Homo sapiens: one gene and its partner. The protein of the gene in region 1 purifies or fractionates together with the protein of each later gene. This does not show direct contact. Each region holds a gene or a part of one and is shown in the gene's direction. Other genes may lie near its edges.

What was found.
Region 2: the proteins of DRC2 (region 1) and MYCBP2 purify together in Homo sapiens (affinity purification with mass spectrometry; 2 studies listed by BioGRID and IntAct, with this or other methods). This does not show direct contact.

Annotation. Positions count from the first base shown.
Region 1 is NC_000012.12:48,898,865-48,908,427, forward strand, and holds the start of DRC2 (dynein regulatory complex subunit 2), read left to right. Parts: upstream 1-5,268; 5' UTR 5,269-5,472; coding exon 5,473-5,604; intron 5,605-6,081; coding exon 6,082-6,249; intron 6,250-9,563.
Region 2 is NC_000013.11:77,057,531-77,066,410, reverse strand, and holds part of MYCBP2 (E3 ubiquitin-protein ligase MYCBP2), read left to right. Parts: intron 1-322; coding exon 323-419; intron 420-1,676; coding exon 1,677-1,796; intron 1,797-3,713; coding exon 3,714-3,815; intron 3,816-4,620; coding exon 4,621-4,749; intron 4,750-5,109; coding exon 5,110-5,242; intron 5,243-6,784; coding exon 6,785-6,888; intron 6,889-8,004; coding exon 8,005-8,193; intron 8,194-8,880. UniProt on the Homo sapiens protein: Atypical E3 ubiquitin-protein ligase which specifically mediates ubiquitination of threonine and serine residues on target proteins, instead of ubiquitinating lysine residues.

The DNA of each region.
Region 1 (9,563 bases):
CAGGGCTCTGTGTCGGCAGGCGAAGAAAGAAGTTACTGTGCTGGCTGGGGTGATTGATCCTAACTAGCAATGAAAAATTGGAGGCCGGGCATGGTGGCTCATGCCTGTAATCCCAGCACTTTGGAAGGCCAAGGCAGGCAGATCACCTGAGGTCAGGAGTTCACGACCAGCCTGGCCAACATGGTGAAACCCCATCTCTACTAAATACAAAAATTAGCCAGCCATGGTGGCGCATGCCTGTAATCCCAGCTACTCAAGAGGCTGAGGCAGGAGAATCATTTGAACCTGGAAGCCAAAGGTTGCGGTGAGCCGAGATCATGCCATTGCACCTGTAATCCCAGCTACTCAGGAGGCTGAGGCAGGAAAACGGCTTGAACTGGGGAGGCGGAGGTTGCAGTGAGCCAAGATCGCACCACTGCACTCCAGCCTGGGCGACAGAGCAAGACTCCATCTCAAAAAAAAAAACAAACAACAACAACAATAAATAAATAAATAAAAATACAAAAATTAGCTAGGCATGGTGGCGCACACCTCTATTTCCAGCTACTCAGGAGGCTGAAGCAGGAGAATCGCTTGCACCCAGGAGACCAAGGTTGCAGTGAGCTGAGATTGCACCATTGCACTTCAGCCTGGGTGATAGAGTGAGACTCCGTCAAAAAAAAAAAAAAAAGAAAAAGAAAAATTGGAATATTACTTCACAATGGAGGTAAGTATGAGCATATCAAGGAGATTCCTTGATATACTAAGGAAGATTCCTTAGGTCATCTCAGTATTACTGTGACCTGTGATTAAGGTCAATGGAAAACTAGAACAAAACAATCCAGGACTACTAATGGCCCAGACCCTTCAGAAATGAAGCTTTGAGTCAGTCCATCAGGTAAAGAAACAGGTCAACACCTGTTAAGGTGCTTGCTGAAGGCAAAGGGAATAGGATAGTAGTAGAAAACGGTAGCTATTAATACCAGCTATGACCACGTGACCAGTTATGGACCCTAGGACTATGATTGCCATGAGTATTTCCTCATTTTGTTATTTATATGTTTATGTGTGTGTATATCAAGCAAATATCTTCATTTTCTTTTCTCTTTTATTCCCTCATAATGTAACATAAGATGTATTAACTTTATGTCATAGTTTTAAGTATTATTAATTTTGCATCATAATATCTGAGTTATGGGATATGAAGAAGAGTAAACATCACTCAAGGATTTTACCTCCTCTTCTGAGGAAGGGATTAGTGTTTTATTTTTCTTTTTGAGACCGGGTCTTGCTCTGTCACCCAGGCTGGGGTGCAGCATCAATGCAAAGCTTCGAAATGCAGGCTCAAGTGTTCCTCCCACCCCAGCCTCCTGAGTAGCTGGGACTACAGGTGTGTGCCACCATGCCCAGCTAATTTTTTTTTTTTTTTGAGACAGAGTCTTGCTCTGTCGCCAAACTGCAGTGCAGTGGCACAATCTCTGGCTCACTGCAACCTCCGCCTCCCGGGTTCCAGCAATTCTCCTGCCTTAGCCTCCAGAGTAGCTGGGACTACAGGCGTGTGCCACCACGCCCAGCTCATTTTTATATTTTTATGAGGGGTTTCACCATGTTTGCCAGGATGGTCTCGATCTCTTCACCTCGTGATCCGCCCGCCTCGGCCTCCCAAAGTGCTGGGATTATAGGCGTTAGTCACTGCGCCCGGCCTGTAATGGTTAATTTTATGTGTCAACCTCACTGAGCCACGGAGGGCCCAGACATTTGGTCAAACATTAATCTGGAGGTCAGGCACAGTAGCTTGTGCCTGTAATCCCAGCACTTTGGTTGGCTGAGGTAGGAGGATCGCTTGAAGCCAGGAATTTAAGACCGGCCAGGGCATCATAGCAAGACCCAGTCGCTACAAAAAAATTAAAATAAAAAAAAATAGTTGGCTGGGCACGGTGGCTCACGCCTGTAATCCCAGCACTTTGGGAGGCCAAGGTGGGTGGATCACCTGAGGTTAGGAGTTCCAGGAGTTCGAGACCAGCTGGCCAACATGGTGAAACCCCGTCTCTACTAAAAATACAAAAATTAGCTAGGCGTGGTGGTGGATGCCTGTAATCTCAGCTACTCCGGAGGCTGAGTCAGGAGAATTGCTGAAACCTGCGAGGCGGAGGTTGCAGTGAGCCAAGATCATGCCATTGCACTCCAGCCCAGGCTGACAACAGCAACAGCAAGACTATGACTAAAAAAAAAAAAAAACACTGAGTATGGTGGTGCACACCTGTAGTCCCAGCTACTCAGAAGGCTGAGGTGGGAGGATCCCTAAAGTCCAGGAGTTCGAGGTTGCACTGAGCTACAATTGCATCACTGTACTCCAGCCTGGGTGACAAAATGAGTTTTCTGTCTAAAGAAAAATAAACAAAAAAAAATTATTCTGGTTTTGTCTGTGAGGGTGTTTCCAGATGAGATTAATATTTGAATTGGATTGAGAATTAATTAGTGGTAGATTGAGTAAAGCAGATTGCCCTTGTAACATGGGTGAGCCTCATCCAATCATTGAAGACATGAATAAACCAAAAAGGCTGAGTAAAAGCAGCTCCTCCTGACTAACTGCCTAAGCTGAGGCAGTCTTTTCTGGCCTTCTGACTCAGACTGAAACTCAGACTCTTCTTGGACCTTGAGCTGGCTGGCTTTTAGTCTAGAACTACACATCGGTTCTCCTAAATCTCCAGGTTGCTAATTGCAGATCTTGGGACTTCTGAGCCTCCAATAATAACACCGATTGCTTATAATAAATAAATACACACATCCTATTGGTTCTGTTTTTCTGGAGAGTTCTGAGTAATGTATTATATTTCATATTTAAAACAACTTTATTGGGGCACATGTTGCATATCACATAATTCGCTTTTTTTTTTTTTTTTTAAATACGGAGTTTCGCTCTTGTTGCCCAGGCTGGAGTGCAATGGCACGATCTCAGCTCACCGCAACCTCCGCCTCCTGGGTCCAAGCGATTCTCCTGCCTCAGCCTCCTGAGTAGCTGGGATTACAGGCATGTGCCACCACGCCCAGCTAATTTTGTCTTTTTAGTAGCGATGGGGTTTCTCCATGTTGGTCAGGCTGGTCCCGAACTCCCGACCTTAGGTGATCCAACATGGTGAAACCCCATCTCTACTAAAAATACAAAAAATTAGCCGGGTGTGGTAGCGGGTGCCTGTAATCCCAGCTACTTGGGAAGCTGAGGCAGGAGAATCACTTGAACCTGGGAGGTGCAGGTTGCAGTGAGCCGAGACTGTGCCACCTCACTCCAGCCTGGGCAACAGAGAAAGACTCAGTCAAAAAAGGAGAGAGAGAGGGAGAGGGAGAGAGAAAGAGAGAAAGAAAGGAAGGGAAGGGAAGGGAGAAGAAAAGAAAGTAATCTACTTTCTGTCTTTATAGCTTGGCCTTTTCCGGATATTTCATATAAATGGAACCATACAATATGTAATCACTTGTGTCTGGCTTATTTCACTGAGCATAGGGGTTTTTTTGGCCGAACATGGTGGCTCACGCCTGTAATCCCAGCACTTTGGGAGGCCGAGGTTGGTGGATCATTTGAGGTCAGGAGTTTGAGACCAACCTGGCCAAGATGATGAAACCCCGTCTCTACTAAAAATACAAAAATTAGGCAGGCATGGTGGTGACACCTGTAGTCCAGCTACTCGGGAGGCTGAGGCAGGAGAATTTCTTGAACCCGGGCGGTGGAGGTTGCAGTGAGCCGAGATCACGCACTGCACTCCAGCCTGGGTGACAGAGTGAGACTCCAGTCTTAAAAAAAAAAAAAGGGTTTGTTTGTTTTGTTTTTGTTGTTGTTTCTTTTTGATACAGGGCTGCTCTGTCACCCAACTGGAGTGCAGTGGCTTGACTATGGCTTGACCTCTGGGGCTCAGGTGATCTTCTCACCTCAGCCTCCTGGGGTAGCTGGGACAACAGGTACGCACCACCACGCCCAGCTAACTTCTTTTGTATTTTTTGTGGAGAAGGGGTTTCGCCACATTGCTCAAGCTAGTCTCGATCTCTTGGGCTAAAACGATCCTCCCGCCTCGGCCTCCCAAAGTGCTGGGATTACAGGTGTGAGGCACAGCGCCCAGCCTGCATATTCTTTTTGAGGTTCATCCACATTGTAGCTGGTATCCATAGTTTGTTCTGAATAATATTCCATTGTATGGACATAGCATATTTTGTCTACTCATTCACATGTTAATGGACATTTAGGTTGTCTCCAATTTTTCCAACTGGGCTATTATGAGTGAGACAGATAAGAAAATTCCTGTGCAAGTTTTTGTGTGTATACATGCTTTCATTTCTCTTAGGCAGATCCCTAAGAGTGAAATTATTGGGTCACATGGTAAATTTATGTTTAACATTTTAAAAAATTGCCAAACTGTTTTCCAAAGTGGCTACACCATTTTACATTTCTACCACCAATATATGAGGGTTCTCGTTTCTCCACATTCTCTCCAACACTTATCTTTTTAAAAAAGGTTTTTGTTGTTGTTGTTGTTTGCAGTTTTTACAGTTTTATTTAAACAGAAAACATACACATGAGCTGTCTACTCATTTTCTTTGCTGCGCAGCCTGGGATTGGGGTTGGTGACTCTGACGGCCAGCTGGGCAGCTCTTTTCCACGATGGCTTTGCGGTTCTTGGAGGAAACATTGTGAGCGATCTCAGCACAGTAAGATTTGTTGCACAACAGCAGCACTTCCAGCTCCTTGACGTGTGGACCAGGAATTTCCGGAAGCCACTGGGCAGCATGTGCTTTGTTTTCTTGTTGCTCCCATAATCAATGTTGGGCATCAAGATCTAACCCTTGAACCTTCCACGAACCCTGTTGTCAATACCTCTGGGTTTCCGCCGGTTACGCTTAATTTTGACATATCGGTCAGACTGGTGCCGGATAAACTTCTTGGTTCTCTTTTTGACGATCTTGGGCTTCCCAAGGGTTCTGAGGACGGTTTATAAAAGTGCACTGAGGGGAGGCTGAGACAGGAGAATTGCTTGAACCCGGGAGGCGGAGGTTGCAGTGAGCCGAGATCGTGCCCATCCTAGGCGACAGAGAGAGACTCTATGTCAAAAATAAATAAATAAATAAATAAATAAATAAATAAATAAATAAATAAAATGCACTGAGGAGACAGATTTTTGAGAGTTAAAAGGACCCTCTCAAAAACCGACCGCGGTCCTCCACTGGGTAGGGGGCGCTCCAAGACAGGGACTCTTCTAGCCTGTTGCCTCTCCATGTTAGCGATATCCTCGTTGCTAGGAGACTAGACGCGTCTTACAGTGGGAGAGCTCAGCCTCACTGATAGCCGGGGATCTCTCCTGTTCGAGGGCTGAGATCTCCGGTCCCACAACCGCCCACAACCAGGGGCACTTCTGGAAGTCCCCTTTCTAGGGACATTTTTCTTCTAAGCTCTGTAACGCGGGCCGAGGCAGACCGAGGCTTCTTTCCCGGATCCAATCCCCTGCCCCCATGCCTAAGAAAGAAAAAATGGCCAAGACGCCCCTGTCCGATGAGAAGCAGCTGCTTCTGTTTCAGCAGAAGTTGCTGGCAGAGGAGGAGATGGCCAAAAAGAAGGAGAGGCTCCTCAGCCAGTTCTTGAAGGTGATGGCCTTTTGCATTATGTCCTGCTCAACCCCATCCACCCCCTGCCCTGGCCCTGTCACTGAGGAAACCTCATTTTCATCCTGACCTCCCCTCCTCCGGAAATCCTGAGACCCAGATATACTTAGATTTCAGGCAACATTGTTTGGGAGGCGGGGGTGTTCTCTGCGAAGCACGGAGGGGGTGCGTGGTATACGGCTTGGCAATCTTTACTGAATCCCAGAACTGGGACCGTAGGTCCTGTCAGCTGTTCCAGCTGTCTGGAATGCTGATATTCTCCCTGGAGATAGGTCATTACAAACAACATCCTACTCTGATGCTCCCACCCTGAAGGAAATTCACCCTTGCCCTCCCTAAATGCCATCAGGCCGTTCCCATCGAAAAGGGGTAAGGTGTCAGCTGATAAATTAAGAGTGATCTTGTTTGTTGTACTGAAAGGCCCTGACTTCCTGGAGGTATATTTATTCCTTCACACAGGACAAGCTGGCCAAGGAGGAACACAACAGTGCTCTGAACCTTAATAAGATTAACACACAGTGGAGAACTGTCCTTCGGGAAGTCAAGACCAGAGAACTTCATAAGGACATTGAGATCCTCAGCCAAACATTTGAACGAGTGGTGGACTGTAAGGACAATGTCATCAAGGTAGGCACTCTTTCCAAGGAAACCTTGAGTATGGCTTCCTGACCTCTTAATAGAATGAGCCTAGTGAATCCATCTTAAAGCCCTCACAAGACACAGGCTGTGAGAAAGCCAGGCTATTGGTAATAATGGTTTTCACAGAAATAAAAAATAGAATATTGGGCTTTCATCCCTCTCTCCCTTAGAGGACCCACTCTTCTTGTCATCTATTGCCCAAAACCAGTACTATCCAATAGTAGAGTCATAAGGCACAGTAGACATCACCCAGTGACTTGAAATGAGTCCCACACCTTCATTTCAATGTCAGAAGGCTCAGTTCCAGAGGGGAACTGACTTGCCCAAGGTCACATAGCTAGTCAGTGAGAGAACCAGGACTCCAGCATGTGTTTATTGATTCCCACTGCAGTGCTCCATTCAACTAAATTGTTTGGCCTCTTGATTCAACTTCAGTGGCCCTGGATAAGGTTGAGAAGATCTCCATGGGTAAGAGCAGTTCTGGATTTCTAAGCAATTCAATCAGCCATCCTTATGCTCTTGGGAGGTTCTTGAGTTCTTGATTCCATCCTATCTTTTCTTCTAAGGGATTTTCTGTACCCCTTCTTTTGTCTTACTTTTAATATTCTGCCTCCATTTACTGCCTTCTCCTTAGTCTTTTCCATTATTTATTTATTTATTTATTTGACATGGAGTCTTGCTCTGTTGCCAGGCTGGAGTGCAGTGGCACAATCTCGGCTCAGTGCAACCTCTGCCTCCCAGGTTCAAGTGATTCTTCTGCCTCAGCCTCCCGAGTAGCTGTGACTACAGGCATGTGCCACCATGCCTGGCTAATTTTTGTATTTTTAGTTGAGATGGGGGTTTCACCATGTTGGCCAGGATGGTCTCGATCTCCTGACCTTGTGACCCACCCGCCTTGGCCTCCCAAAGTGCTGGGATTACAGGCGTGAGCCACTGCACCCAGCCAGAGTCTTTTCCATTTTCAACAAAACAAAGCCCACAGTAACAGCAAAATATACATTGCCAACATGGTATTCCCCCTCTAGAAAACACACATTTCTCTTTCATAGCCTAATCCCTGGGGAAAGAGCTCAGCAGACCCTGGGCAGCTTCCAGAGATAAATATTAAGAGTCCTCAAATTTGCAATAACCATTATTCATTAGAAGTCCACATACCCCACCAGTTACACCTTATGGATTTTTTTTTTTTTTTTTTGAGGCAGAGTTTCACTCCTGTTGCCCAGGCTGGAGTGCAATGGCGCAGTCTTGGCTCACTGCAACCTCCGCCTCCCGAGTTCAGCCTCCTGAGTAGCTGGGATTACAGGCATGTGCCACCACGCCCACTAATTTTGTATTTTTAGTAGAGATGGGGTTTCTTCATGTCGGTTAGGCTGGTCTTAAACTCCCGACCTCAGGTGATCCGCCCGCCTCAGTCTCCCAAAGTGCTGGGATTACAGGCATGAGCCACCACGCCCAGCCACTGAGGAGTTTCACTCTTGTCACCAGGCTGGAGTACAGTGGCGCGATCTCGGCTCACTGCAACCTCTGCCTCCTGGGTTCAAGCGATTCTCCTGCCTCAACCTCCTGAATAGCTGGGATTACAGGCGCCCACCACCAAGCCCAGGTAATTTTTGTATTTTTAGTGGAGACGGGATTTCACCATGTTGGCCAGGCTGGTCTGGAACTCCTGACCTTAGGTGATCCACCTGCCTCGGCCTCCCAAAGTGCTGGGATTACAGACGTTAGCCACCGCGCCCAGCCCATACCTTATGGATTTTTAAGAGGCTTTTTCAGACACTTATTGGAAGTTATCAAACACTTGATAAGAGGGCCAGGCACGGTGGCTCAAGCCTGTAATCCCAGCACTTTGGGAGGCTGAGGCAGGCGGATCACGAGGTCAGGAGATCGAGACCATCCTGGCTAACATGGTGAAACCCCATCTCTACTAAAAATACAAAAAATTAGCCAGGCGTGGTGGCGGGCACCTGTAGTCCCAGCTACTCGGGAGGCTGAGGCGGGAGAATGGCGTGAACCCGGGAGGTGGAGCTTGCAGTGAGCAGAGATTGTGCCACTGCACTCCAGCCTGGGTGACAGAGCGAGACTCCGTCTCAAAAAAAACAAAACAAAACAAAAAAACACTTGATAAGAACAGCAGTGTTCATTGCCTAGTGTTCCATTATTGGAATGCTAAGTTTGTGGGAGTTATGTATCTCGTACTGTTCAAGGTCATCGCCAAGATCTGATTTTTCACAAAAAATATTTGCAACCTCAGGCATGAATGGGTTAAGGGAAGCTGAGTAGTTGGCCAGGTTCACCCCGAGACAATTAACTTCTTCCTACACAGCAGCCTTGCAGCTTATGATAACAGTTCTTGCTTAGGTAAATCACACACTGTTAATATTAACCACCTTCAGGGTCATTCCTGAATGAGACTACACATATTAAATGTGGAAATGTTAGTGATCCTCACTATCTCTACTTCTTCACTTCCATTTTACCCTGTATCCCACAGCATCTGATTTCTACCCTTCTCTAGGAAACTGCTCAGGTAAAGGCCACTGGTTCAGAATTGTGGCTACTTTTCATCATTTAGTCTTTATCTAACCTAACCTCTCTATGGCACTGACATTCTTGGTCATGCCCTGGGTCTTGAAATTCTCCTTTGGCTTGCATGACACCATTCTGTCATTTTTCCTACCTCTGGGACATAAATCAGTCACTCCAGTGAGTTTATCTTCCTCTCTCCATCCTCTGAACTTCAGCATTCCCCGGATTTCTGAGTCTGGCCATCTCACCCTTTAACCAGTTTTCTAGGGCCAATCTTACACATTACCCTGGCTTTATTTTATTTTATTTTTTGAGACAGAGTCTCACTTTGTTGTCCAGGCTGAAGTGCAGTAGCACAATCATAGCTCACTACACTCAAGCTCCTGGGCTCAAGTGATCCTCCCACCTGAGCAGTTGGGACTACAGGCTCTCACTATGACTGGCTAAATTTTTAAATTATTTTAATTTTTAGTAGAGACAAGGTCTCGCTGTGTTGCCCAGGCTGATCCTCCCACCTCACCCTCTGGAGTAGCTGGGACCACAGGAGCATACCACCTCACCTAACAAATTTTTAAATTTTTTATAGAGATGCAGTCTCGTTATGTTGCCCATGCTGGTCTTGAACTCCTGGCCTCAAGCAGTCCTCCCACTTCGGCCTCCCAAAGTGCTAGTATTACAGGCATGAGCCACTGGGCTCGGTCCATCCTAGATTTTGCATCTATCCCTGACCTTTGTTACTAAGTGTTGTATAAGTCGTCTACTTTAAAGTAGTTTTC
Region 2 (8,880 bases), on another chromosome or scaffold:
TGAATTTATATTCCGGTTAAGCTCCACATTATCCGCATGTGCCCTAGAAATAAGTCGTGTGTGGTCCCTGGACTGTACTTCTAAAAGATGCACACAGAAATAATGTGCAAACAGAGAAATACTTGAAAGGGAACTCAAATAACCTTAACTGCTGTCTTGGGATTTGGGGTAATGGTTTGATGAATTTTCTTTTTAAATGTTTTAATTGATTCAGTCACTTAAAAATCTAAAATGCTGCATTCTGAAATAACATTTTCATCTTTTTCATTTGTTACTACTACTGATAATTTATTGGCTTTTTAAGTGCTAATTTTTCTTGTAGTTATCTCCGACGAGGTGAAAGTCATTGGTGGATGAAGGGCTCAACCCCTACCCAGATCTCAGAGATCATCATTAAACTTATCAAGGATATGGCAGCAGTAAGTTCCCATTCTTCTGTTTTGGCAGTGAAGTGCGGCAGGAAGCTGACACAAAACAGCTTACTCTGCTGAATTGATAGGAGATGTAGATTAGTGTAACTTTACTTAAAGACTATTTGTAGTATGTTAACTATCATGCTGTTTGTCTTTTCAGTGAGTGATAATTTGTCATTTATGTAAACCATGTTCATTTCAAATTTTCCAGTTAATTTGTGTGGGAATTGTTACGTGACTTTAAAATCTAATAAAATAAAATATGCTCTTTCAGACCCTAAGAAAGAACTTGATTCAAAAAACCTAAAGGAAAAAAAGAGGAAGAGAGCTCTCGAAAGTGGAAGTTTCTCATTCTCCTCAGTCCTCATGGTTTTTAAACCCTTTATTCTTCTTTATTAATGTCATATACCCTCTGTCTTAAGATGGTGGCTTCCAAAGGAGATCTGGGAGTGTGGAGGACAGGGAGTTACTTTACAGAATGCCTGGCTCTGATTAGTTGCTCCTTGTCATTTTCCACACATTGTATTATTTCTAGGAGGGCAGCCTGAGAAGGACAAGATAGTATGGAATGTAGAGTCAGAAGGAATAGAAGGCAGCTTGGAGAAGGAGGAGGAATTGAACTGCCCCTTAAATCATGTGGATATGAGAAGTGGGAGGATTTTCTGGGGGAAAGATGAAGTTCTATCACTTTTCCCAACAGCGTGGATATTTTCTCAACCTCTGTGGCAAACAGACTTTCTCAGGGTGTTCATTGAATTAAAATATTTAGGAGTAATATTTAGGAACACCTAAATTATATGATAGTTAAATGTTTGTTCATTACAAATCAAGGTAGCAAATAAAGGTAGTTGCAGTTTGAACCTGTTTATATTTTAGGTTCCTGTAATACTCATCTAAAGCAGTTAGCTTCACTGTGTAAATTTTATGCTAAGTGACAAACTTCTCAAACATAGATAACCTTAGTATTTCTGTTATGTTTTTATCAGATGTGAGAGTAATTGCCCTTGATTTCCAGGAAAAGAGTATTGAGAACTTAATTTTTTATTTATTTATTTTTAAATATCAAAATGATGATTAGAAGTTGAATTTTCCATAGGATCACGAAGAAATTTTAGTTCAAAAGTTTGTGCCCATAATCTAAAATTCCATGGTCTCACTAAAAACAAATATTTCCTTTGATAGGAGATGTTATTTAAGAAAAAAGAGTTTACTATGGTAATACATTTCTGGTCACTTATTAAAATACTCTGTTCTGCTCAATAGGGTCATCTGTCAGAAGCTTGGTCCCGAGTGACAAAAAATGCTATTGCAGAAACCATCATTGCCTTGACCAAGATGGAAGAAGAATTTAGGTCTCCAGTGAGATGTATTGCAACAACTAGAGTAGGTTTTGCTTTGTTTTGTTTTGTTTTAAATTTGGTGTGTATCATTGCGTGTTCTTTTTTAGTAATAGATTTAAACAAATTTTAATCACTAAGTCAACATAATTATTTTTTAACCAAATACCGTATTTATTGAAAAAGTATAAAGGGCTTTTATATTATGAACTAGTCGTTACTTCTCACTGTTATGTGTTCTGTGTCACTTGTTTTTGTTATTGTTTAGGAAGCCAAGGGTACACTGGTTAGAAAAGGCTAATTACATTGTACATTGTTTGCGTGTTGTCTTTCTAATGATCTGTTTGCTGTAGTTTACCACAGTAAGTTTAGTGCCAGCATTATGCTGTGATAGACCGAAGGTCCTTTGGAGACAAGACCCCTGCCTATGCCTGGTTGTTCCTAATGTAGAGCCCTGTAACTTACTTACAGGATTTATAGGTCTTACTTCTAAAAAGCAAGAAGTGCTTGTCCAGGGCAGGGTCAGGGTGGAAATCTTTGAGGAAATGAGATTGCATTCTTCAGATGACACATTTATAGTAAGTTTTAACCTGCTAGATTTCATGTCCCATATACTTCCAGAAGAGATTTGAGATTTCCTTGAAGGAGGGCAGTCTGACAACGTTAGGAAGAAGTGAATGCTGGTAAAAATTGCTTAGGTTAATCCTCAGAAATCTGAAGAAGATAAACTATATATCCCTAGGGCGGAAAAAGTCAATTTATGCTATCTTGCTATTATTGACTGTGACACCTGAAATAGGTATTTTTGACAGTAATCCTTTCCTACCACTCATGTGTTGCTTTCTTTCAGTCTGCATTCCCCTTCCTCCTTGCATGCATTATTTCTTTTTCTATTTTTCTGTCCCTATTTTAACATCTCTTGCTTTCTGTATCCAATAACACTCACATGCACTTCTTAGAGTTGAGCTAGTTAAGTCATTTTCTATTCTTCATTAATGAGGGGATATATCATTCTATATAAAACTGAAGCTTACCCTTTAAGCCTCAGAAATTTTTAACTATTTCTGAAAACAGTTGTCTTTTTTTTTTTTTTTTTTTTTTTGAGACAGAGTTTCACTCTTGATGCCCAGGCTGGAGTGCAATGGTACGATCTTGGCTCACTGCAGCCTCCGCCTGCAGGTACAAGCGATTCTCCTGTCTCAGCCTCCCAAGTAGCTCGGATTACAGGCATATACCACCACACCTGGCTAATTTTTTTTGTATTTAGTAAAGACTGGGTTTCACCATGTTAGTCAGGCTGGTCATAACCCCCTGACCTCAGGTGATCCACCCACCTTGGCCTCCCAAAGTGCTGGGATTACAGGCATGTGCCACTGTGCCCGGCCCTATTTTGGAGAACAGTTTTCTAAAGCTTTTAGACATGTATGTATTTCTGACAAAGTGCACCAAGTATAGTATTAGGCTTTCTGGGGCAACAAGGGGCAACAAAGACTTCTGAGGAACTTTTATTATCTAGAAGGATTTAATGTGTACCTGACTACTCATGGGACTGTACACAATTTAGCAGTTGCTGTACCACCTTCTTTGGCATTTAATGATACTAAATGGAAAAATATTCAGAAGACATTAGTAGTAAATATTAAATATGCCAATTCATTTATTCATATGTTGTTTACATAGTAGACCAATAAAGGATAATTTTATTTGTCAGATAGAAGACAGGGTGGTTCATCAGAGAAACAGTCACTTGTTCAGTAGATATCTGAGTGCCTCCTGTGTGCATGGCACATAGGACAGTGATCGTGTATGCCTGCTACCACATCAGGAAGACTTGAGTGCCACTGAGTATCTATGTATTTTCAAAATCAGCCAGCATTTATTGAGCTGTTGTGATGTGTCACAGTCAGCATTTCATAAGTCTTTCCTAAAAATTCAGTGGTGTAACAGCCTTCCCTTTCAACAGCTCTGGCTTGCTCTCGCATCCCTATGTGTTCTTGATCAGGACCACGTAGATCGTCTCTCCTCGGGGAGATGGATGGGAAAGGATGGACAACAAAAACAAATGGTAAGATCAGAATTTTGTAAGAATTTATCTTGCTTTCCTTTACAGTAAGCTTTAGCTTAGCTTAAAAACAAACAAACAAACAAAAAACACATCAACATAAACAGTTAGTGGATCTCTTGAAAGATTGTGTCCCTTCGGCCAAGTTCATCTCACAAGTCTATTTCAGAGAGTCCCTACTTCATAGTATATGGAAACTTTAGGGGCTTTTATTTAAGTATATTAAAGAGCTTTCTTCTTCTCTGAGTCATGTTTGCATCATATCAAAATTTATTTTTAGCCAGAGTCTGATTTAGTGACTAGATATTTTACTAAAATGTAATCAGTCTTATGGTAGGAAGGAAATAAAGCAATAACACAGGCAACATGACACACCACCTGTTCACATATATACTTAAGTAGGTTTGATGGGTATCTTTAAGTTCACTAGAAAGGAAAACTTTATATAGGCCCTTTCACCATTTTCTTATTAATGTTCAAGTTTCAAAAATAAACAGTTTCTTCCTTTGGCATACAGAATGTTTAGATATATAATGGGGCAGACATTTCTTAAGTCTCTAAGTAACAAAGTATACCTGTTCATTGTATTAATCATTGAACCTGCAAAGCACATTAATGATTGGATTTGGAGTTTTGAGAGATTTTTATAGTTAAGTACATTTGCAATAATTCTGTTTAATATTCAGATTCTAAATTCTTAATAGACTTCCGAATAACGGTTTATTTTTGTAAATAAATTATATTCAATTTGTATGAGAGTCTGAGACTTGCTTGTTAATCTAAGTAACGTGGAAATGTCTTATTTTAGCCTATGTGTGATAACCATGATGATGGTGAAACTGCAGCAATCATTTTATGCAATGTCTGTGGAAATTTATGTACAGACTGTGACAGATTCCTTCACCTTCATCGAAGAACCAAAACTCATCAAAGACAGGTGAAGATTTTTGTCTCTGGAGCATAAAATATGTTCAGTGAATTTTGAAATAAATGTGTGAAAGAGGCTTTGTGTAGTAGGGGGAAAAAGTGGACTTTGGAATCAAAGACCTTGGTTGAGTTCACAGCTGTCTCGCTTACCATCTATAAATAGCAAGTTGTTTTATCCTTAGAAACACTTAATTTCTCCATTTATAAAAAAGGGACTGCTGTGAAGATTAAAGAGAAGATTGGAAATATTCAAAACTTCTTAGAGTGCTTAAATGAAAGCCATTATTATTATTGAATAATTAAATTTTATACTCTCCCTTTCAGAGTGATAAATAAGCATATTTTTCCCTGTTCTTTAATGAAATAATAGGTCTTCAAAGAAGAAGAAGAAGCTATAAAGGTTGACCTTCATGAAGGTTGTGGTAGAACCAAATTGTTCTGGTTGATGGCACTGGCAGATTCTAAAACAATGAAGGCAATGGTGGAATTCCGAGAACACACAGGTAAAAGGTTTAAAGATTGAGCCATGCCTTTAAAACCCACAAAAAAAGATTAAACCGTGCCAACTGATTAAACTGTGAATAATTTTGAGTGATATTCTGATGTTTAATTATGACATCATTGATCTATATATTTACTAAATATATAGAGTGTTCTATGGTGAAGAGAGCATTAGACCAAAAGTCAAGAAACCTGATTTGCCACTAACTAGCTGTGTGGTGTCGAGCAAGTCACTTAACCTCTGGAACTCATTGACTTCATTTATAAAGTGAGAGGATCACAACTAATGGGGCTCCATAGATAAAATACATTTCTATTGATAATTCCCTTCTAGTTCTGCTAGTTGTTGCCCCACAATAAAAATTGCTGCACTAGATGATCACTAAGATCTCTATTTATTATAAGGTTGTATGATTTTATGATATTTAGAGGTTTTTGTAGACCTAATGCTTCTGAAGGTGTTGTGAATGGTACTGTTTCCATTGATAGCAATAAAATAATTAACAAAAATGAATAGACATAAAACAAAAGGTAACCTATGTATGTTAAATGTATTTTTATCTCTAAAACATAGTTTTCATTTTGCTGCTTTTCTAAAGTAAATCTTGTATATTCCTAGTTCAAAGTTATGTTGAATCTTACAAATTCTCAGTTTTCAGCACATCTGCAGTCTGCCATTTGACTGACACGAACTTCCAGTGTTGGAGTTAGGTGTAAATCCGAATCAATTTAATTCTAGGGTGACTTTGCATGCTGCAAGAGCATGACCTTCTTTTCTCATAGTTGATTTCTTCCTCCTATAATCTGTCAGTGCTGTATACTGCATTAATAAATGTTCTAATGTCAAACCATCCTTGTAAACCATCCTTTTTAAATAGATTTTTCTGTAAATATTGCTGAATTCAATATATTGATATTAATTATAGTTAGATTTTTATATCTGTGTTTAAAAATCAGCTTGGTCTGTAATTTTCAAATCTTCACGTTCTTTTTCTTATTGCTCTGTTCTTGTTTTATTGATTCTGTTTCTTCTTTAAGTATTTCAAACATATTTAAATTCCTTTTCAAATTGCAGAGTTCCTGAGGTAGGAATTCTGTTTTTCAAGTTTCATACTCTGATGATAGGCTTTATACCATGCCTTATAATTTTGTTATATATAGTTAAAGATTTCCCTAACTTCTGTGTATTTTTATTTAATTTTTGGTTATCATATTTTTTATGGTATTGTGCATTTGGAGTCAGGGGCTTGTAACAGCTGCTCAGTCTGGTAACTTGACTAGAAGTCTAGTCTGTTTCTTTCACTGAAAAAAAATATTAGTCGAGAGTGTATTTGGCTTCAGATAGGTCTTTAATTTCTTTTTTTGTGTGTCATTATTTACTTTATAATTAGGACAACTTAGAAACCTTCCGTTCTAAAACTGTCAGGCTGATTTCCCAAGGATAGCAACTTATACAAACCTAGTTTGCTTTTTAAAATTTAGTTCTGTTAACATATCTAGAAAACATCCATAAGAAGGATTTTTATTTTTCTGCTTGAACCTAGGCAAACCCACCACGAGTAGCTCAGAAGCATGTCGCTTCTGTGGTTCCAGGAGTGGAACAGAGTTATCTGCTGTTGGCAGTGTTTGTTCTGATGCAGATTGCCAGGTGAGTATATAGTGACACAGGCCATCCCATTGTCCATGTTCCCCTGTGACACCTTTACTTCATACAGAAAAGAGTTTTAGCTCAGCGTCACTCCAGCTTCCTAAATGAGTGTATTACCTATGTGAAGCATCAAATGCCTTACCAAAGTTGAAGAATGGGTCAAATAAGGCTCTCAAGCCCAAACCACACTCTTTTTGTATGTTTCTCAGTTACCATGATCATATGTATTTAATATCTACTTTTGTACTAGAAACAGTTAAAAATTTATGAACTGTATTTCCTTTATCTCTTACAGACATTATTCACTTATTTCCTTAAAATACATTTTCAACATCTAAGAGTTCTTTAATCCTGAACATATATAAACATATTCTATGTTGTCCAAATGTTTTTGGTTTCTCAATTAATAAGAATGTGGATATGCTCAGAGAGTCAAAGGTACCTTTTTAAAAAAAAAAAAAATCTGCATTTTGGTGATGCGGAGAGTGGTGACTGGGAAATTATACATTGGGGAACTTTTTTTATTTTTTATTTTTTTGAGACGGAGTCTGGCTGTGTCGCCCAGGCTGGAGTACAGTGGCACGATCTCGGCTCACTGCAACCTCCGCCTCCCGGGTTCAAGCGATTCTCCTGCCTCAGCTTCCTAAGTAGCTGGGATTACAGGCGCGCGCCACCATGCCTGGTTAATTTTTGTATTTTTAGTAGAGATGGGGTTTCACCATATTGGTCAGGCTGGTCTCAAACTCCTGATCTCGTGATCTGCCCACCTCAGCCTCCCAAAGTGCTGGGATTACAGGTGTAAGCCACGACTCCCAGCCAGGAACTTTTTGCTTTATAGCTGTGCATGATGACAAATATGAAATTATAATTCACTTATCAGCATTCCCTTTATAGAGAGTGGCATTTTTTAAAAATCGCATCAAAAAAAAAAAACTTTGTTAAGAAGCCTAATTTATATTCAAACAAAGATTAGAAATAACTTTACTTTGTTGTTACTTGGCCTGCATAGATACTTCCTGTGGGAAAGTAATCTTTGGAAATTTATATAATAAGGAAAATTACCAGAATGTGTGCTTTTTTACATACTTGTGTAACATTGTAATTCATCTTTAACAGGAATACGCTAAGATAGCCTGTAGTAAGACGCATCCTTGTGGCCATCCATGCGGGGGTGTTAAAAACGAAGAGCACTGTCTGCCCTGTCTACACGGCTGTGACAAAAGTGCCACAAGCCTGAAGCAAGACGCCGATGACATGTGCATGATATGTTTCACCGAAGCGCTCTCGGCAGCACCAGCCATTCAGGTTGCCTCAGCTTTTAAAGTATTGAATGTATCCAGACATTAAGATGGGGAATATATTTGTCAAATAAACATTGATTGAGGCCGGGCGCAGTGGCTCATGCCTGTAATCCCAGCACTTTGGGAGGCCGAGGCAGGTGGATCACGAGGTCAGGAGATCGAGACCATCCTGGCTAACACAGTGAGACCCCGTCTCTACTACAAAAATACAAAAAAATTAGCTGGGCGTGGTGGTGGGTGCCTGTAGTCCCAGCTACTCAGGAGGCTGAGTCAGGAGAATGGCATGAAGCCAGGAGACGGAGCTTGCAGTGATCTGAGATGGCACCACTGCACTGCAGCCTGGTGACAGAGCGAGACTCTGTCTCAAAAAAAAAAAAAAAAAAAAAAGCAGTTGATTGAAATCTTTTTTTATATCACTAGGCAGAAGTGTTCTTTTAATCTATACATGTACCAGGCTAATGAGGAGCAAATTCTGCCTCTTTATGCTGTGCTTTCTATGTTGCATGCTCAGCTTTAATTTGTGATTTGTGTGAACCTCTGTAATCAACAGAATGTATAAAATATTCAGAAGCCAGGGGGAAATAATTAGATTATCCCCCAGTAGCTAAGGCTCTTCTTAATTTCCAAAATCCAGAATGGTATTTTTACAACATTATATAATTGATCTATACATAATGATACATACTTCTAT